Linked DNA regions of Homo sapiens. The protein of the gene in region 1 purifies or fractionates together with the protein of each later gene. This does not show direct contact. Each region holds a gene or a part of one and is shown in the gene's direction. Other genes may lie near its edges.

Region 1 (4,603 bases):
TTTTCTACCACAAGCTTCCTCCTCCAGCACATTTCATTAAAACTCTGGAAGAAAAAATTTCATGCTTGATTTGAGCCACATTACACTTTGGGGACTAGCCCTGAAAAAGACCACATTGTAGACAGCTGCAGCAATGCGCAGTCACTACTCACACCTTTCTCTCTCACTCAAATTTAGGGTCCTTAATTTATCAGAAATCCATATTGTCAATAGGTCTTACTGGTATAATTGTTAGAGATGAGAATACATTTTAAAAGAGTGGCAGTAATAGTATACGGTAATTCTAAAGTTTTGAAAACCTAAAGACCAGATAGGCAGAATAGCAACTTTTTTGTGTGTTTATTTTGAGACAGAGTCTTCTTCTGTCACCCAGACTGAAGTCCAATGGCCCAATCTCAGCTCACTGCAACTTCTGCCTCCTTGGTTCAAGCAATTCTCCTGCCTCAGCCTCCCTAGTAGCTGGGACTAAAGGCATGAACCACCACACCCCACTATTTGTGTGTGTGTGTGTATTTTTAGTAGAGACGGGGATTTGCCATGTTGTCCAGGCTAGTCTGGAACTCCTGACCTCAGGTGTTCCACCCACCTTGGCCTCCCAAAGTGCTGGGATTACAGGTGTGAACCACCTCACCCAACAAGAATAACAACTTTCTAAAGAAGTCATTTTTTTTTTCTCTCTCTCTCTACAGGATTTGGGAGACATCGTGGCAAGGTATGTTTTTGGCCGTCAGTGCAAACTGGAGCACAAGGCATGCTATGAAAAACATCAAGCTGTTTCCAACAAAGTGAAAACATAATTTACTAACACCATAATGTGTCAGTGTGATTGTGTGTGTATGTGTGTGTAGTCATGTGTTTATGTGGTATGATGAATGTCATCTATGCCTTTTATCAGACATTAATCTTTTCTTACTTTCCCAAGTGACTCAGGGGTTTATGTTTTGAAGAGTGCAATGCAGAGGTTGCTAGAATACAGTTGCCTCTTTTTGCGATTCAGAATCATAATTAGAGATAAACTATTTGGTGGCAGATAGGGAGAGAGGCATTTATCTTTCAGGGGCAGTAGGTTAGAAATGGAGTGAATAGTTAGAAAGATTCCCTAAGAGCCACAAACCCATCCTAGCGTTGTGGAGGTACATTACGGTATCAGAAGTGGGTTTGAATGAAGCATTTTCTGTTGGAATCTGTTTCTTAAACACAGACATCAGAAAGTTAACCAACTCAACCTACTTCCTTGCAGGAGTGAGTCCGTGCTGCTGCACATGCCCCAGCCTGTGAATCCAGAGCTCACTGCAGGACCCATCACTGGACTGGTGTACAGGCTCAACCGCTTCCGAGGTGAGTGTGGCCCTGTTGGTGGGATCCACATGCAATGCCTTCAATTATGGTTTTCTATGGGCAGCTTTCCCAGTGTAATGATCTTTCATCTAGAAGAAGAGAATAGCCTGTGAATAGGTATTTATATTTATAGTTTCACTATCATCAAACAGACAAAACGAAATAAAAGCTGGTGAAATGTAATAGGAATCAGCCATATAACAAATTTCTTAGAAAAATAAAACATGCAGAAGGGCTCTTTAGGACTTTAGGAACCATTCTCTGATACAATTTCATGTATACAATTATTACATGAAGTATACAGAACTGAATTCAGGACATTTCAATTTCAAATTCAGTGCAGTTAACGACTGATTTGAGTGACAGCGTTTTTTTAAAAAAAATACATTTTTAGGTGATGTTTCATAGCATTTATAATTTTAATCATGTTTTTAATCAACTAAAGCATACATGAGTAACTTATATAACAATGCAAAAACTGAGAATCTGTCAACAATAGGAACATGATTTGGTGGTTGATGAGGTCTTAGATAGAACTCCAGGATAGATCATGACAAATCCAGCAGAATAAAAGAAGTCTGTGCCTGAATCTGGCATGAAAGTCAGATAATTTTTGCAAGGAATCAGCACTTTTCAGAAGGCAGATTCAGGTTTTCTCTTTAAGTATGAATTTGCTAGGTTAAGTGGCAGATCATAATATTTCTGGAAAGTGATAACTTTTTTATTTGGGACTAAGAATAGCTCCCCACCTCATCTCCTGTCCAAAGCCTCCTGCTCTGCCCTGACAGAGACGAGACAATGAAGGTTAATTTTATGGCTATGGACTTGGCTGCAGTGGAGGAGCTTCCAGTTTTTCAGTTGTTATGAAAGGTCGCTAACGAGACATAGACATGACCTTCCTCCCCTTTATACTTTTTGAGTTTATGGAAATTGTGATCATCCTAGTTTAGCCATTTACTTGTGCAGATCTCCTAACACCCTTTGATTCCAACATTTTTCCAGACAGAAGTTTCTTTCTAATCTTGACCTGTGTTTTCTAGTGAGAATCTCTTTCTTATCTGAACATAAGAATTTACAAACTGATTTTCACTGGAACATTCTCTTTTTTCTACAGTGGAAATTTCCTTCCATTTTGAAGTAACCAATCACAATATCAGGCTCTTTGAGGATGTGAGAAGTTGGATGTTTAGACGTGGACCTTTGAATTCTGACAGATCTGACTATTTTGCTGCATGGGGAGCCAGGGTCTTCTCCTTTGGGAAACACTACTGGGAGCTGGATGTGGACAACTCTTGTGACTGGGCTCTGGGAGTCTGTAACAACTCCTGGATAAGGAAGAATAGCACAATGGTTAACTCTGAGGACATATTTCTTCTTTTGTGTCTGAAGGTGGATAATCATTTCAATCTCTTGACCACCTCCCCAGTGTTTCCTCACTACATAGAGAAACCTCTGGGCCGGGTTGGTGTGTTTCTTGATTTTGAAAGTGGAAGTGTGAGTTTTTTGAATGTCACCAAGAGTTCCCTCATATGGAGTTACCCAGCTGGCTCCTTAACTTTTCCTGTCAGGCCTTTCTTTTACACTGGCCACAGATGATCAGGATTAAGAAAACTTACTGTTTGGGAACTCCATATACAAGGGAGCCCTTCACTGTTGATACAAAGAAATCATACTGTTCAGGCTTTTTTGTACTTTAGTGTCACTTCATTTTATTGCTATTAAATAAAAAATTTGTAAAAGGCAAAACTTTTTGTACATTTTCTTACAATTAAAATAATCTCTTATGGACCATTACCTAAAATACGTATTGTGATTTTCAAGTGTTTGTGAATTTATTGGATGGAATTCTGGAAATATGTGGGTGTGTGATTCCAACTTAATGATCTCATTCAGGAACAACTTTTGTACATCATGGGCAGACGGGGTTTTGTACAATGCACTTGTAAGTGTGAGAGTTCCCTCCTATTAATACAGTAAATTCTACACCTCATCCCTTTGGGGGGAAAAATTTATTTCACACAGAAGTTGTCACTGAATCTTTGGGCTAGAACAGGAATTTAACAGTCATGCATCCTATGGCAACAAAATACATTCTGAGAAATGCATTATTAGGCGATTTCATCATTGTGTGAACATCAGAACACACTACAAAAACCTAGATAGTATATTCATCTACAGACATAGGCTAATGGTACAGCCTATTGCTTTTCTGAGAATTTGCTAGCGATGTCTGAGCAAGAACCAAAAGGGTTTAACCCACATTGAATTCTGCAGCTGTTTAATAAAGCAAACAGCATCATCCAGGGAATAATAGATGTGCAGACTGTCTGCTTTAAAATGTGTTTATATTTCCAATTCACACAGACTGTGAATTCTCATTGACAACCTAGAGACCAGACATAACCAACACCTCATGTTACATTGGAAACATATTAGTATCAGGTAAAAATAAATAAATAAATAAATAAACAAACTAACTAAATTAAACCAAAACAAAAAGTGAAACAAACAAAACCCAGTTCTGATGAAAACCCAGTTTATAGTGAGTCCATTGAGTCTGTCTAGCCACCAGATGGTCATTTTCATGATCACTGATTAAATAATGGAAACATTCTACTTCCAGTCCAGCAGATGATCCTGGCTGATGTCTGAGGTTCATTGCTTGGGGCTGTTACCTAGAATATATTCAAACGGCCTTTCCAGGTAGCTCCCTGGGCTTGCTCACAGCATGGTAGATAATTTTCCACAGTGAAGATTCCCATAGAGTCAGGAGAATTGTATACTACCATTATTCCAGAGAGTAAAACATCAGCTGTAGCCACAACCCTACACAAAGTAAAGGGACTAGAACACACACACAGCAGTAGCAGTCTTGAAGTTACATCATAGAAAAACAATGTGGGATGGAATATATATTTTAGCACTCTTTTAGAGAGAGTGGGGGAGGAATATAACCTACTACACCTACTCTTCCTAAGAAGTGGACACTGAGGATCTATATCCAGAGACTGGGGGTCCTGTAAAACATGAGATCCAACGAGCCCCTTATAGAAACACCATTCAAGTTCCAGATTCCTGGAAAAGGGCAATTGACAATTGACCAGGTAAATATTCTTTTGGAAATTTTCTTCAAGATTTGGTATCAACTGGACAATCATTATGAACACAGCACAGCAAAATCACTGAGGAAGATGCACATGACACTGGAGTAGAGGGGGGGAAGGGGTGGTCCATCTCCTTCAAGATGACCAGGGAGAGACACAGT
Region 2 (5,464 bases), on another chromosome or scaffold:
CATCAATTAGCACTTCCCCTTTAACATCCCAAACACTAAGGTACCTCATTTTCCCAATCTGAAACATGTTATCAGCTGAGTACAGTGGCCTGTAATCTAATCACAGCACTTTGGGAGGCTGAGGAGGGTGGATCACTTGAGACTAGGAGTTCGAGACCAGCCTGGGCAACATGGTGAAACCCCATCTCTATATGAAATTTAAAAAAGAAAATAAACATGTTATTATGTTTACTGCCGCTGCTCTGTTTGGAAGATGACAGAGCTCCCAAAGTTTTGCCAGTCTTTTGTTCCTTTACAAGTTTTTCTGGAGCAACTTACTTTTTCTTCTTTAACTTTTTGTCAAACTCACTGTCAGAATTCCTGCCAGAAGAGCTTGAAGAAACAAGTTCCTTTGATTCAGACATAATGCTGCCCTGCTTCTGCAGCTGAACACCCTCCTGTTCACTCATGTGCAACTGACTCATTTGTAAAAATTTCTTTTTTGGCCGGGCACGGTGGCTCACACCTGTAATCCCAGCACTATGGGAGGCCGAGGCGGGTAGATCACGAGATCAGGAGTTCGAGACCAGCCTGACCAACGTGGTGAAACCCCATTTCTACTAAAAATATAAAAATTAGCCGGTTGTGGTGGCAGGCACCTGTAATCCTAGCTACTCAGGAGGCTGAGGCAGGAGAATTGCTTGAACCCTGGAGGTGGAGGTTGCAGTGAGTCAAGGTCACGACACTGCACTCCAGCCTGGGTGACACAGCGAGACTCTATCTCAAAAAAAAAAAAAAAAAAGAAAAAAAAAGTTTTTTTTTTGAGACAGGGTCTCGCTGTGTCACCCAGGCTAGAGTGCAGTGGTGCCATCATAGTTTACTGCAGCCTCAACCTCCTGGGCTCCAGTGATTCTTCCACCTTGGCCTCCCACAGAGCTGGGACTACAGGAATGCACCACCACACCTGGCTGATTTTGTTTTGTTTTGTTTTGTAGAGACAGAGTCTCACTATGTTGCCCAGGCTGGTATTTTAAATTTTTAAATAAGAGACAGGATTTTGCTATGTTACCCACGCTGGTCTTGAACCCTTGAGGTCAGGCTGTCCTTCTACCTTGACCTCCCAAAACACTGGGATTACAGACGTGAGCAACTGTGTCCAGCCCTGTGCACCATTTATTGATTGATTGAACACTTAGCTGTGGCAAAGACTAACCTTACAAGCATTCCATCTGTGTCTCAGAACGCTTTTGGGTGCAGTTAGTGGAATACCCTGTTAGAAGGGACAAACGATACTTTAACTCACAGATGGATCACCTGGGGACCTAGTTAATGTTCAGATTCTGACTCAGTAGGTCTGGGGTGGAGCCTAAGAGTCTGCATTTCTGGCAGACTCCCAAGAGGCTGATGCTAGGGGCCCACAGACCACACTTTCAGTAGCCAGGGCATCAATCATAGACATTTGTCTTTTGATTCTGCACAAGGCTGGAGGTGGGTGACTCCAGGATGAGACTAGCAGTGTAGAGACACCAGGGCTCTATTTTGGCTTCTCTCTGACTTCATTGCCTTCCCTCCTGCAGTTGCAAGTAGCTGCCGCAGGTCCAAGCATGCTCCCCTTACAGGACAACATCCAAAGAGGACAGAAGTGGGGCAGTGGGAAATTTTAAGAAGGGATTTTCCTCCTGTGGCTTTCTCTTCTTGTCCTTTGGAGAGAAAAACCTTTCCCGGAACCTTAAACCTTTCTTACTCCCCAGGCATGCTTTTCTTTGCATCCCAGTGACTAGGATGGGGTTACATTCCTGCCTGGACTGGTCACTGGCATGGAGCAATAGGATTGCAAGATTGGCTATACCAATCAGGATTCAACCCCTCGGACTAAGCATTTTGCTATTTTCTTGTTAGCAAGGAAGAAGCGTGGAATGGCTGGTAGATAGGCAGACATTAGTGTCTGCTACACCATGTTATCTCAGTTTTCCACACAACTGTACCATCATCCCTGTTATAGACTGAGGAAGCAGCTTGCAGCAGTAACTGACTTGCTTAAGGTCACACAGCTATGACAGAGGTAGGACTCCTGTCCATCAACCTTTCCATCAACAGTACTCATGCTGCTCTGCTCCCCATCAGGTATGACAATCGGTGCAGGAACATGAGCCAGGAGCAGGTGGCCCAGAAGCTGGCCAAGGACCCCAAGCCTGCGATCCGCTTCCGCCTGGAGCAGGTGGTGCCAGCCTTCCAGGACCTGGTCTATGGCTGGAATAGGCATGAAGTGGCCAGCGTGGAGGGAGACCCAGTCATCATGAAGAGCGACGGCTTCCCCACATACCACCTGGCCTGCGTGGTGGACGACCACCACATGGGCATCAGCCACGTGCTGCGAGGCTCTGAGTGGCTCGTCTCCACTGCCAAGCACCTGCTCCTCTACCAGGCCCTGGGCTGGCAGCCACCCCACTTCGCCCACCTGCCCCTGCTCCTCAACAGGGATGGCAGCAAGCTCTCCAAGAGGCAAGGGGACGTTTTCCTGGAGCACTTTGCTGCTGATGGCTTCCTGCCCGATTCCTTGTTGGACATCATCACCAACTGTGGCTCAGGTTTTGCAGGTACGTGCCCACCTGAATAGTCCTGGCAGCAGAGAGCATGGCCAGGAGGAGCAGGGCTTTGGCTCAGACAGTCCTGCTCTTTGGTCCCAGCTTTGCCACCTACCAGCCAGGTGACCTTGGACAAGTTTATTCTTTTATTCAATAAATGTTTATTTTGCCAGACACCACATTAAGTGCTGGGGCTACAGTAGTGGGTGAGATAGACATGATCCCTGCCCTCAAGGGACTTATAGTCTCTGAGCCTCAGTTGCATATCTGGAAAATGGGGATAAGTGTCTACCTCATTGGGTTAGGATTCACTGAGCTCAGGAGTGTAAGGTACCCAGCCCAGCACCTGTCACACTGTAAGCACAAAAAATGACAGACCCTATGATTGTGACAATTATTACAAGCATGTATGCTAACAGTATGACTAGAATTAATATGGATTTAGTTTCTTTTTTTCCTTCTTCATTTTACTGCCAGATGAATCTAGTTTATTTCAAGCTGAGCACTTACCCATGGTCCAAGACTTAGACCCAAACCTTGAAGAAGCAAGCATCAAATAGGATGACCTGAAGGATTTCTGAAAATGTGTCCAGAATAGCCTGCCTGCTGGTCTCATTTCATTTAACACAACATACTATTAAGGGGTAGATACATATCTCCACTGTTTGTAAGAGGATTGTGAAGCTCAGAGAAGCTGAGTAACTTGCCAAAGTCACACACCTAGTGAGGGATATAGCGCTTTAGGCCTATGCCTGATCACGATGCCTGCTGACCGTATGGGACTGAGCTGCTGCTCACAAGAAGCAGCTCCCAGCACTACGGTTCTTAACTTTTTTTTTTTTTTTTTGAGACAGAACTTCTTGTCCCCCATTCTGGAGTGCAATGGCGCGATCTCGGCTCACCGCAACCTCCGTCTCCTGGGTTCAAGCGATTGTCCTGCCTCAGCCTCCCGAGTACCTGGGATTACAGGCACCCGCCACCACGCTTGGCTAATTTTTGTATTTTTAGTAGAGATGGGGTTTCACCATGTTGTCCAGGCTGTTCTCGAACTCCTGACCTCAGGTGATCCACCCGCCTTGGCCTCCCAAAGTACTGGGATTACAGGCGTGAGCCACCGTGCCTGGCCTGGTTCTTAACTCTTGATCGTGCTTTGGAATCAGCTAGGAAGCTTCTAAAATATGCTCAGACCCCAACCAAACCCAGTTGACTCAGAGTCTCTGGTACAGCCAGGCAATGGGCGTACTGTTCTGCAGCTCGTGTCTTGAGAGTAATGGAGATGGGTTTAGCCTGATTGTTTTCAGACCTTTTTTTCTTTAATGATGGAACCCTTTCTGAAAATGAAAGCTCATTCAGGCTCTTGATATATAAATAGCTAGAAGTTAAATCCCTTTGGGCAAAGTGGAATGGGGGGCCCAGGGCTTGCTCACTCAGCCTCCCTTATGTTTGAAAGTAGAAGGAGGGCGGGCACAGTGGCTCATGTCTGTAATCCCAGCACTTTGGGAGGCCAGTGCAGGAGGATCATTTAAGCCTGGGAGTTTGAGACCAACCTGGGCAATATAGTGAAACTCCATGTCTACAGAAAAATGTATGTATGTATGTGTGTATGATGTATTTATTTGATAGAGTCTCGCTCTGTTGCCCAGGCTGGAGTGCAACGGCACAATCTTAGCTCACTACAATCTCCGCCTCTCAGGTTCAAGTGATTTTCCTGCCTCAGCTTCCTGAGTAGCTGGGATTACAGGCATGCGCCACCACACCTGGCTAATTTTTGTATTTTTAGTAGAGATGGGTTTCACCATGTTTGCCAGGCCAGTCTCGAACTCCTGACCTCATGATCTGCCGACCTCTGCCTCCCAAAATGCTGGTATTACAGGTGTAAGCCACCATGCCTGGCTCTACAGAAAAATTTAAAAATTAGCCAGGTGCGGTAGTATGTGCCTGTAGTCCCAGCTACTTGGAAGACAGGCTGGAGGATTGCTTGAGCCTGGGAGTTTGAGGTTACAGTGAGCTAGGATTGTACCATTGCACTCCAACCTGGGCAGCAGAGCAAGATCCTGTCTCTTAAAAAAAAGAGATAAAGTGGAAGGAGGAAGGGAGAGAGGAAGCTGAGTGGCTGGGCCTCTCTTCTTTGCAGAGAACCAAATGGGCAGGACCCTGCCGGAGCTGATCACACAGTTCAACCTGACACAGGTCACCTGTCACTCAGCCCTGCTGGACCTGGAGAAGCTCCCAGAATTCAACAGGTGAGTGGGGAGCATGGAGATCCCCTGGTGGCAAAGGGCTTTCTTGCTTATGATGATCCCTACAGCAGAGGGTATAATGGGCTCTGGTACCTAATTCTGTGTGACCATGGCTAAATCACCTAGCCTCTTTGAGCCTCTGTTTTCTCTTCTCTAAAATGGGATTAATAACAGTACTGATCTTATATCCTTGTTCTATGAAAGTATCTTGTATTAAGTGTTGCATGAAAATATCTTGTATAGCCCTGGCACATACAAAGTGCTCAGTAAATGGTACGTATATTTTTATCATTAACATTATGTTCCTAGCCACCCCTTGCATGGACTCTGTTAACAACCAAAGCCTGGAGAGGTGTATCTTCATTTTAGACTCCCTCCCCACCCTCAGCCTTACATCCAGCCAACACAGTGAGTGAGCACTGTCTCATGGCATCTACTTTATATTTCATGTATTTGATATTGCAAGTAGCTCTTCACTTGGAAACCTCCAAATATCGTTCCAACTCAGATCATAGTTAACATGTCTGAGTCAAAGGGTATTAGTGTCGGCTGGGTGTGGCGGCTCACACCTTTAATTCTAGCACTTTGAGAGGCCAAGGTTGGCAGATCACCTGAGGTCAGGAGTTCGAGACCAGCCTGGCCAACATGGTGAAACCCTGT
Region 3 (5,464 bases), on another chromosome or scaffold:
GGGAAGCCAGAAGGCTGTTGAAGCATTCTTGGTAAAGTATTAGTGATGGCTTACTTCTACTAGGTAATGTCTGTGGTGATAAAAATGAATTACCTCATTTGAGAGAGAGTTAAAAGGGCGAATGGATGGAACTTGGTGATTGACAGGGTTGAAGGAGCAGTAGAGAGGGAGAAGGGAAGTATCACACCCATTTTTCTGGCATGAAGAATAAGGTAGATGGGAATGCCACTGAGATAAGGCATTGATTCAGTACAGATACAGGAGTGAGGTGGTCAAAACAATCATTTTAGTTTTGGATGTTTGGCATTTGAGGCATCTGTGAGTTTTCCAGGTAGATTTATCTGGTAAACTGTTGGATATATGGATTTGAGCTGAGCTAGAGATAATTTATTCATTCATTCATTCCGCAAATATTTATTAAACCCTCTTAAGTGCCAGGAATTATTATATATGTATTGGGGATATTGTAGTAAATAGACAAAATCGCCCTGCCCTCAGAGATTATTTTTATAAAGTGGGAAGATAGACAATAAACAACAAAATAATTTCAGATAGTCACAGTACCCTGAAGATGAAACAGGGTAATGATACAGAGATGGGGGGAAGTGAAGGAGGGATTAGACAGGTGACCAGCGGTGGCCTTTCTCAGGTGGTGATACTTGAATCATGAGAAGGAACTAACTAGGTTTAAAGTCAGGAGGAAACATTTAAGGAAGAAAGAGGAGAATGTGTACAAAATTTTTGAAGGCCTTAAGGGCCCACTGAAGTCTCAACTACATTTTGTACCCCAACTTTTTGTCACTCCAGTGTGTTGGGTCACCCCAGAGCAAGTGCAGATACATCTTTTGATGGTTGATTTGAACATGAATTGAGAAGAGGGCAGAAATACCCAAATGTCTAATCTTTTCCTCTCTCTCTTTTTATCCTTCTTTGGGTTAACCTTTCCATATCTCATGAAATAAGAACGGATTCTCAATCTAGTGTTAAAGCAAATATTCAGAATATTCCCTGAATTGTGTTTGCCTCTCTGAAATGCAAAATTAATTCTACTTCAGTCCTTTTTTACCCAAATATATATTAGTATTTCCTAAATGTGCCTTTGTTGTTCCCTACAATATTAAGTGCAGGTTCTAAGGAGGAATTTGGTTTTCCCACCTATTTTACATTATTATATCTGTAAAAATCCAATAGCAATAGAACACAGAGACACAAATAGAACTTAGGAGGATTCAGAGCTCCGCTTGGTTGAACAGAGAAGTTCATTAAACCAAGCAACTCATTCTGTTTTATAACAGATGATTTACTGGCTAACACATTGGAATGTGTGCCTGACTTTTATTTTCTGGTGAGTCTTCCAGTGATAAAACCTAAAATCAGTGGTAGATTTTAAAACCTAAAATCAGTGGTAGATTTTCCTAGAGCAAAGTTTCTCAACCTCAGCCCTACTGTCATTTTGGGCAGGGTAATTCTTTTTGTTCTGGGAGACTGTCCTATCCATTGTAGGATGTTAAGCTGCATCCCTGACCTCCACCCACTAGATGCTAGTTATATGCTCTCTTCATCTGTGACAGCCAAAAATGAGTATAGTTATTGCCAGTGTCCACTGAGAGTCAAAATCAATCTTGGTTGAGAAACTACTGTTTAGAGGAATTCTTAACTGTTTTTCTGAAGACACATACCTCATGCTTCAAGGGTATAGCCTACTGACCCTTCAGTAGGCAGCAAATTGAAGGCCTATTAGTAAAGTGAATTGATTTCTGTCACCCAGATCCTACTATGATGAGAGGAAGGCTGGCTACTTACTCGAGGGACAACTTCTGTCAGCCATGTGGTACTGCTGGAGGTGACACTGGCATCTTATACGCAAATTTAGTTATTTGCATGGTGGAGTATTGAGAGATAAGGAAAATTATGAAAACTATCGTATGCTAGAGAATGTATCACTTAGTATTTAACATACACCAAATTATGTTTTGAAAAAGTGAGTAATGAGTGATTAGGTGTGTATGTGTTTTTATATATACATGCACATATATGTATTTATAATGTTACAGTTCCCTAATTATTTGTATGTTGGCTCTTTGGGATTTTGTGTATGCTTCAATTTTCTCCTTAACTAATCACTGTCATTATATCCTCTAAGTTATCTTTGTCTGGTTGATTACTGCATGAGATTTCACTAAATGAATTGGAAAAAAATGTTTTAGCTGTTTTGGAAGATGTATTTGCATCTTTTGTGTTGTTACCTACAGTTAATAACATACTTCCTGATATTCTGTAGCATACAGATGTCAGCTCTTTCCAGACAATGGACCAAATGGTGTCAAATATGAGAAACTATATGCAGAAATTAGAAAGAAACTTCGTAAGTACTAAAAACAAAGCATTGAGAACATTGTGTATACTTTGATATATTCTATTTCATAGTGGCTTTCAAACACTTTTTTAACCATAGTGGTTAAAAAAGATACCTTACATGATTAACCCAATAAGCAATATTTGTATACTTTATAAATATATTTGAAGCAAAAGTTTCATGAAAAAATGACTATACTATTTACAGTATATACAGTTATTTTCTAGTCTATTTCATGTATTAAAAATCCTGGTTACAACCCACTAAATTGAGTTCATAACCTCCAAGTTTGAAAAATAATGTTAACTTTGAAAATTTTTTAAAAATTGGAAAAAAAATAACCTCAAAAACATTGATTCTATTGAAAGTCACTATTGTAAATGAACATTTTATATGAATTTGCATAATTTTATTATTAATAACCTGTCTACTTAAAAGGATTTGTAGCATCTGAAGAGTTTCAGGGTTTTATAAACGACTCTGAAAACAGAAATTTTAGGAATAATGTTTAGGTATAGTTCCCTAATAGTCCAAATAAACTAGTACTATAATAATACTCTCTATATTAACATCAAAACCAGTCACTTGATTTGATCTGAAGAAGACCCATAACATTCTAGTCATCCAGTTTGAATTCTATGGATCATTTCAGAATGCCCAAATAATCTAGGGCATTATTGGTTTTAGTAATGTAGCAATCTGGTACCTACAGGAGGAGGTACGAAACTTGATGTATAACTAATTGATTGGCTTAATGTTGGCAAGATTACACACAAGGGTCAACCACTGACTATAGAAGTATCACAGGTTTGGGGGCATAGCATCTTTATTGAAATCTAAGCCACGAGCACCCAAAGACTTAAGGATCTCTGAGTGAGTCACTTATTAGTCTTTGTAACGAGAGTGGGATAATTGTACCTAAAATGGACGACCGTTAGGACCCTCTAGGGGTGACTTTTTTTGGGCGGAGGTAATTTTTCAAGTCACTTCTCACTTGAGAACCTGGGTGTGCCTTTGACTACACCATATTGGTAGTTTAGTATCCTTAGTAGAACTTACAGCTAGTGTTGTTACTTATTTGAACTCTCTGGCAATAATTATTTATATTTGACTCGACTGAATTTACAATTTGTTTACCTGTAGGGTCAACTTTCAGTGGATCCAAATGGACATTCATTTTGTTCTTCCTCAGTTATGACTTATTCCAAAATAGGAGATGAACCGCCAAAGGTTTTTCAGGCCTCAACTCAAACTCGTCGAGCTCCAGGAGGAGTAAGTTTTCTATAAGCATTCCTAAAGTTTTATAAAGTTAGGGGATGATAGACTGTCTAGATCAAATTTTAACTATTAAAATTTAATCTGGTACAAGATGGTGGGGGGACAGGAGGGAGGTGTGGGGGTTGGGGGTAAGGTAGTCCTCACTGTGGAAACCATTAAAGCTCAACTGTATTTACTTAGTTTGTGGCATTTTTTTTGTAGCCCCCCCACCCCCCCGTGAGGGTGCCTTTTTTCATGTAAATATCTATGGATGTTTATTACCTTTACATGTTGACAAGGTAAACAAAACACGAAAAGAAGCCTTTGTTTCATGAAATTAATGTCTATTTTTAAGTTTACATTTGAAGTGAATTAATTTTTTAACTCATGAAATATTTCAAGTGTACAGAAAGGATATAGAGAATAACATAATAAGTGCCCATATTCCTGCCACCCAGTTTAGTCATATCATAACATTTTTCTCTATTTGCTTCAAGTTGTCTCTTGCTTTGTTTTCTTTTTAAGCGAAAATGTACAGAGGCAGTTAAACCTTCTAATACATTCCTCTGAGGTCTATTTTCCCTTTCTCCCCTTCTCAGAGATTACCATTTTCCTGTATCTGGAGTTTATCATTTTCACGCATGTTTTTACAATTTTATTACTTCACGTTTCTGTCATTAAAAAAATGGATTATTTTCCAGATTTCCCAACATTACATAAAGGGTATCATATTGCATATGTCCTCTGCAACTTGTCTTTGCTGAGTAATATGCTTCTGAGATTTATTCAGCTTGATACATGTGGCCCTGGTTTCTTTAACTTCTATGTAGTATCCAAAATATGAATATATTATGATTAATACGCTTCTGAGATTTATTCAAGTTGATACATGTGGCCCTGGTTTCTTTAACTTCTATGTAATATCCAAAATATGAATGTACCATGATTTTTAAATCATTTTCTGTCAATAGATATGTAGGTGAGTCTAATCTTTCACTAATTCATCTTTATACATGGCTCCTTATACAGAGTCTAGGAGTGGTATTGCTGAGTTGTAGGGTATGTGTACTTTCCTCTTTACCTAGCGTTTCCAAGCTACTATCCCAGTGATTGAAATTGTTGGCTTCCAAAACTGTGGCTTGTGAGTTTCCATTTCTCTACTTCCTTGTTAGTACTTATAGTAAAAATTTAGGTTTACCAATCTAATGAATGTGAAGTAGTACATTTTTTAGTTCTTACATATAAAGATGAACCTTTTAATGATGCTTTTGCCATAGTTCTGCTAATTAATCTCAGACATTTTAATTTTAACTTTCTAAAAGTGACAAACTTAAATGTAAACAGAATATAATTGTAGATGTCCCACAGTAAATCATGTTAGTTGCTATCAGAAATATTCTTATAATACTTCCATAGAGTTGATAGTCGGGAATCATGAGATTCAAGCCAATCAATATGACTGATGAATAATTAGTTGCCCTTATTTGTAGGAATCCCACCATAAACTTCCTTCTATTACATTATCTAAGACAGTCTTGAAGGCATTAAACTATAATTGCTACTTTTGTTTTAATATTTGATTACAATTTGGAAAAAGGTTAAATTGTATGGGTTCTGTTTGTTGTAGACATTTTCATTTTAAGGAGTTCAGGAAATATCAGAGACTTATTACCACAGTTTTACCACAAGTTAATAGTGGAACTGAGCACACATTATTTTTAGAGCAATAGATCTATGGCCATATCTCTGTAGGTAAGCTGGCCCTGAGATATACATTCTATATATATTTAAATAATAATAAAATTTCTTTATTTTTACAGATAAAGGAAACCAGGAAAGCAATGAGAGATT
Region 4 (5,464 bases), on another chromosome or scaffold:
CATGGAGAAACCCCATATCTACTAAAAATACAAAATTAGCCGGGCGTGATGGTGCATGCCTATAATCTCAGATACTCGGGAGGCTGAGGCAGGCGAATTGCTTGAACCAGGGAGGCGGAGGTTGCGGTGAGCTGAGATTAGGCCATTGCACTCCAGCCTGGGAAACAAGAGCGAAACTCCATCTCAAAAAAAAAAAAATAATAATAATAATTGTAGGCCTTCCTTAAGAAAAATAAAATAAAATTCTAGGCTGGGCGCGGTGGCTCCTGCCTGTAATCCCAGTACTTTGGGAAGCTGAGGCGGGTGGATCACCTGAGTTAGGAGTTTGAGACCAGCCTGGCCAACATGGTGAAACCCCGTCTCTACTAAAAATACAAAGATGAGCCATTTGTGGTGGCACCCATCTGTAATCCCAGCTACTCGGGAGGCTGAGGCAGGAGAATTGCTGGAACCCAGGAGGCAGAAGTTGTAGTGAACCGAGATCATGCCACTGCACTCCAGCCTGGGTGACAGAGCGAGATGCCATCTCAAAAAAATAAAATATAAAATAAAATTCTAAGCCCTGCAACCAACTGAATGGAGCCCTCCCCTTGGTCAAGGGAACCCCAGAGAAACCTTGGAAGCTTGAGTTCCTGGCCGTAGCAGGAGAGGAGGTCAGACGCGCCTCACTGTACCCCTCCCTCCCCAGCCACCATTAGGCTTCTTCACTAAGGGCTAAACAGAAACCAGCCCTTTTCAAAGACTCTACACTGCTAATGTGGATTACTGGTTTATCTTCCCAGATACAGATTAAAGACAAGATGAGATTAATGGTTCCTTCACCCTTCCCTGAGAGGTCTGCTTAGTTCTCTTCCTCTGTTTCCTTCTATCTTAGGTAAAATGTACATTTACTGGGCACTTACTGAAGTCTCACAAGTACGTAACCACTCACCTCACAGCCACCCTCCCTCTTTGAAGGACCACATGTAATTACTAAACCTCCTGAGAACCTCTTGGGACAGAAACAAGCACAGATGTGCCGTGACTCATGTTTTTCCTGTGGGCACCCTCAGGCTGGCTCAGTAGCCCTCACTTGCTTGAGATCCTGAATCTGCGGGTTGGCGTCTTTCATGGTTGCTGGATCATACTCTGCCGTTATCTCTTCGGATATGAGTTGCCCCTAGCCCACTATCTGGCCCCTCTCTTTAGGGACCTCTGATTGAACATACATTAGACCTTCTCTCTCCTGCTGTTCCTGATCACTCTTCTGTCCTGTAATTGCTGCTTCTTGTGCTGCATTCTGGGTAATTTCTTCTGGTCTTTTTTCCAGTTTACTAATATTGTATTCTGTTATAAGGTCCTTCCATTGAGTGTTTCTTTCTTTCTTTTTTCCCAAACAGCAACTCAAAACAGACATTGAGTTTTAATTTTGGTTCCTGTACTTTTTATTTCTAGAAGTTCTATTTGGTTATTTTTCAAGTCTGCTACATTATTACATAATTTTTTAATAATTTTATATCTTTAATAGATAGTTTTTTGTTTTGTTTTGTTTTGTTTTGTTTTTTGAGACAGAGTCTCGCTTTGTTGCCCAGGCTGGAGTGCAGTGGTGCAATCTCAGCTCACAGCAACCTCCGCCTCCCAGGTTCAAGTGATTCCCCTGCCTCAGCCTCCCAAGTAGCTGGGATTACAGGCACGCATCACCACGCCTGGCTAATTTTTTGTGTTTTAGTAGAGACAGGGTTTCACCATGTTGGCCAAGACAGTCTCGATCTCCTGACCTCGTGATCTGCCCACCTCGGCCTCCCGAAGTCCTGGGATTACAGAGCTGAGCCACTGCGCCTGGCCTTTGATAGATATTTCAAGTTCATCTTTTTTTTTTGCTTCCTTAATTTTTTTTTTTGCTATACCCCATGCCTCCAAGATAACAGTTTTTTCTTTTTAATTTAAATATAATACAGTTTTACTGTGTATCCAAGAATATCTGAAATCTTTCGTGGGTCTCTTTCTTTTGTCTTTTGTATCTGTTGCTTTTTGCTGGGCTGAGCCTGCTTAAAACAAGCCCCGTTAGCTGTAAAGGTTTACCTTAGAAAGTCAGGTGTCTTCCTCTGTAACTCTCTCCCTTTTCCATCTGCTCCAAGGCATTTATTTATATTAATCTTGACGCAAAGGGAAGTTGTGTCCACTTCACCTTGGCCAGTAAGGAAGCAGTGTTTGGCAGATGTTGTTACTCCTAATAATGCCAGCCAGTGAGTGAAGCTGACCTGAATGCCTCCCAGGGCTGAGGCAATGGCATGATCACCGAAGCTCAAACCAGAGACAGTTTCACCTTTCTGACTGAATAGTGTTCGGTGTAGGCCAAATGCCTGCAGACTACTGTTTGAGGACTGGTGTGGTCTACCAGGTGTTTCCTTAGCGCCTGGATGTCTCTGGCTGCCATCCCAGGGATAGAGCATGGTGTTAGATACGCTAGATGCCTGCCGAAGTAATTATGGGTGAAACATATGATGTCCAAGATTTGCTTTTAAAGGCTCCAATACCTCCTCCCAGATTCCGGAGGGCTGTGAAACAATTAGCTATGAAAACTGGTAATTCCTGAAGCTGGGTACATGGGGGTTCATGATCCCTCTCTCACCTTTTTTGGGGGAGAATGTTTGAGACTTTAATAAGAACTTGTTGCCTTTTCCTTTTACAGGGTGTTGCAGGCATCTTCCTCAGGCCTGTTTTCTCTGTTTTCCAGGCTGACGTGATGGCAGACAGGGTTCCCCGCTGCCCGGTCTGCACCGGCGTTGTGAAGCCCGACATTGTGTTCTTTGGGGAGCCGCTGCCCCAGAGGTTCTTGCTGCATGTGGTTGATTTCCCCATGGCAGATCTGCTGCTCATCCTTGGGACCTCCCTGGAGGTTTGTCAGCAGGCCTGTGCAGGGAGGAGGCTGGAGGGCAGGGGAAGGGAGGGGTACAGGAGTCATCTCATGGGCTGTCGGCAGGCCTGTGCAGGGAGGAGTCTGGAGGGCAGGGGAAGGGAGGGGTACAGGAGTCACCTCATGGGCTGTCGGCAGGCCTGTGCAGGGAGGAGGCTGGAGGGCAGGGGAAGGGAGGGGTACAGGAGTCATCTCATGGGCTGTCGGCAGGCCTGTGCAGGGAGGAGGCTGGAGGGCAGGGGAAGGGAGGGGTACAGGAGTCATCTCATGGGCCCTTCCAGGGCTGGTGCCACTTTGGGAAGGTGAATGGATTCAGCTGGGGTTCCAGGCTGAGGGAGCAGCAGCCTGTGCAGGAGACAGGAAGGTGGGAAGCTGCTGGGCTTTGGAGGTGGTATAGGTGTGGGTGGGGCACCACGTGTGAGGAGAAGGGAGAAGGATGGGGGTGTGGGGGCGAGGTGGAGGGGCAGGGCCTCCCAGGTCAGATCAGGAATACTGATGCTGCAGTGGGAGGAGTGATAAATCCACAGGGACTGGCCCGGGGACGTAGCTGCACCCTTGGGGTCAGGGAGGCCTTTGGGGAGTGGAGAGTGGAGCAAGCAGTGCCAGGAGGCTGGTCCTGGAGAAGGTGGAGCTGTGGTCGCCTGAGGGATGGCGAGGAGGGGGACTGGACTCGCAGTCTGTGATGTTTTGGGGACGTGAGAAGGAGGCGTCTGGCTTGGTCTGTAAGGTCAGGGCACTTGCTGGTGAGGCGTGATTTGGGAGGGAGGATGCCCAGCTCGGTTCTGTGTGTGTCTGAGGTGTCGGGAAACATGCCCTGGATGTGTTCAAGCAGCTGTTCTGCGTCTGCGTCTGCAGCTCAGGAAATTCCTAAAAGCTGTGATGAGAGCAAGAAATGAGACCATGAAGTCAGTGTGTGCGTGACTGGATGTAGGCACCGAGGACAGAAGGGCCAGAAAGACCTGTGCTCAGAGGGGCCCAGGGCAGCCACAGGGGCCCAGAGCATGTGTTTGTTCAGGCATTCATTGTGTGCTGGGCCCTGCTCCAGTGCTTTGGACATACACGGTCAGATGTCAGTGTAAGAAGTTATATAGTTTGTTAGGAGATGATTGATGTTATGAGAAAGATAACAAGTAGGATAGAAAGGCTAGAAGGGTTGGGAACCAGCTGCAGTGTCAAGTCAGGCAGGTGGAGTTGGATCTAAGAGTTTACCGAGGTGAGGAGGGTCTGGCAGGGGACACTGCACAGGTGACAAGCAGCAAGGAGGGTGGGGCGAAGTCAGCATTGATGGCCACGGGGCTGGAGCAGAGAAGAAGGTGGGGCACAAGTGTCATCTCATGGGAGGCTGGCGCCACCTCAGAAGGTGAATGGGTTCAGCTTGGGTTCCAGGCCAGAGTCTGAAGTTGAGAGGACTCCGTTGGGTGCTGGGCTGTGAGCCCACCATGGGGGCAAGACTGGGAGCAGCAGACCCAGCAGGGCCCTTGTAGGTAATCACCGGCTGGCACTGGCTGGGGGCCAGGTAAAGCCAGCAGAGGCTGAGGGGTGCTGGAGTCTGGGTGTGTGTGAACGCAGAGTGGGTACGCTGGCACAGTGCATGGGAGGCCGTGGATTCCCAAGGACCCCAGGGCTGTGGCTGGAGCAGCTGGAAAGACGGAGCCGCCGCTTCCTGAGATGGAGAAGCCTGGTAGGTGGGTTTGGGGGAGCTCAGGAACTCAGCCTTGTTTCCACGGATTTGAGGATGTGCTGCGGACTGGAGGTGTTGAGCAGGTGGACATGAGTCTGGAGTCCAGGAAGGCCCAGAGGCAGGAGCTGGGGTGCTGGAGTGAGCAGACAGGAGAGCCCAGGGTGTGGACAGACATGAGAATGCCATGCTAGGCCTAGGATGGAGGGACAGACACAGGAGGAGCAGTCAGAGGGGCCATGGTGGTCAGCACAGTGTGGGCTGAGACCAGCTGACCGTGCTGGCCACCAGGTGTGGACACTTGGGCCACCAGCCATCTTTATTGTTGAAGTGAAATGAAAATGGCCTTTTTCCTGATTATAAGTGTATCATGTGTGTCTTTGAAAAGATTCGTACATTATATAAAGATATAAAGCAAAGGATCAACTTTTTAATCCCACCAACTGTTAGCATTTTATTCTGTGTCCTCTCAGCTTTCTTTTTTTTGTACAAATGCATACGTACAGATGGTAATTTTAAACTAAAAGTTGGACAGCACTGTACATTCTATTCTGCAGCCTGCTGTTTTCACGTAACAATGTGAGTCCATGGAGATGTGCTGCGTTGTTAATGCCAACAGTTTCCCTTACACGGATATGAGGTCCCAACTGAGAAACCCATGTCTGTAAGGCTGGTGCCATCATGAACTGAATGAGCTGGTGTCACGCACAGACTCTATCTCATGTGCTTTGTGGACGAAATGTTAATGTGTTTGACTGTGGAGTACCACTCCAGATCCCCTTTAGGTGTGACATAACGTGGGATGTAAACCATATGATCTTTTCTAAAATCTCAAAAATTCTGAAACATATTCAGCCACAAGAGCTTTAACATAGATTTTGTGGATTTAA

Evidence for each region. Proteins that work in one complex are often made in the same cells at the same time.
Region 2: the proteins of TRIM43 (region 1) and EARS2 purify together in Homo sapiens (affinity purification with mass spectrometry; one large-scale study listed by BioGRID and IntAct). This does not show direct contact.
Region 3: the proteins of TRIM43 (region 1) and MLF1 purify together in Homo sapiens (affinity purification with a luminescence readout; one large-scale study listed by IntAct). This does not show direct contact.
Region 4: the proteins of TRIM43 (region 1) and SIRT3 purify together in Homo sapiens (affinity purification with mass spectrometry; 2 studies listed by BioGRID and IntAct, with this or other methods). This does not show direct contact.

The regions. Positions count from the first base shown.
Region 1 is NC_000002.12:95,596,640-95,601,242, forward strand, and holds the end of TRIM43 (tripartite motif-containing protein 43), read left to right. Parts: intron 1-689; coding exon 690-712; intron 713-1,240; coding exon 1,241-1,338; intron 1,339-2,452; coding exon 2,453-2,934; 3' UTR 2,935-3,139; downstream 3,140-4,603.
Region 2 is NC_000016.10:23,532,000-23,537,463, reverse strand, and holds part of EARS2 (nondiscriminating glutamyl-tRNA synthetase EARS2, mitochondrial), read left to right. Parts: exon of another isoform or gene 1-80; intron 81-231; exon of another isoform or gene 232-460; intron 461-2,103; coding exon 2,104-2,576; intron 2,577-4,698; coding exon 4,699-4,807; intron 4,808-5,464. UniProt on the Homo sapiens protein: Non-discriminating glutamyl-tRNA synthetase that catalyzes aminoacylation of both mitochondrial tRNA(Glu) and tRNA(Gln) and participates in RNA aminoacylation for mitochondrial protein translation.
Region 3 is NC_000003.12:158,594,581-158,600,044, forward strand, and holds part of MLF1 (myeloid leukemia factor 1), read left to right. Parts: intron 1-2,281; coding exon 2,282-2,365; intron 2,366-3,499; coding exon 3,500-3,628; intron 3,629-5,433; coding exon 5,434-5,464. UniProt on the Homo sapiens protein: Involved in lineage commitment of primary hemopoietic progenitors by restricting erythroid formation and enhancing myeloid formation.
Region 4 is NC_000011.10:221,492-226,955, reverse strand, and holds part of SIRT3 (NAD-dependent protein deacetylase sirtuin-3, mitochondrial), read left to right. Parts: intron 1-874; exon of another isoform or gene 875-1,283; intron 1,284-2,716; coding exon 2,717-2,878; intron 2,879-5,464.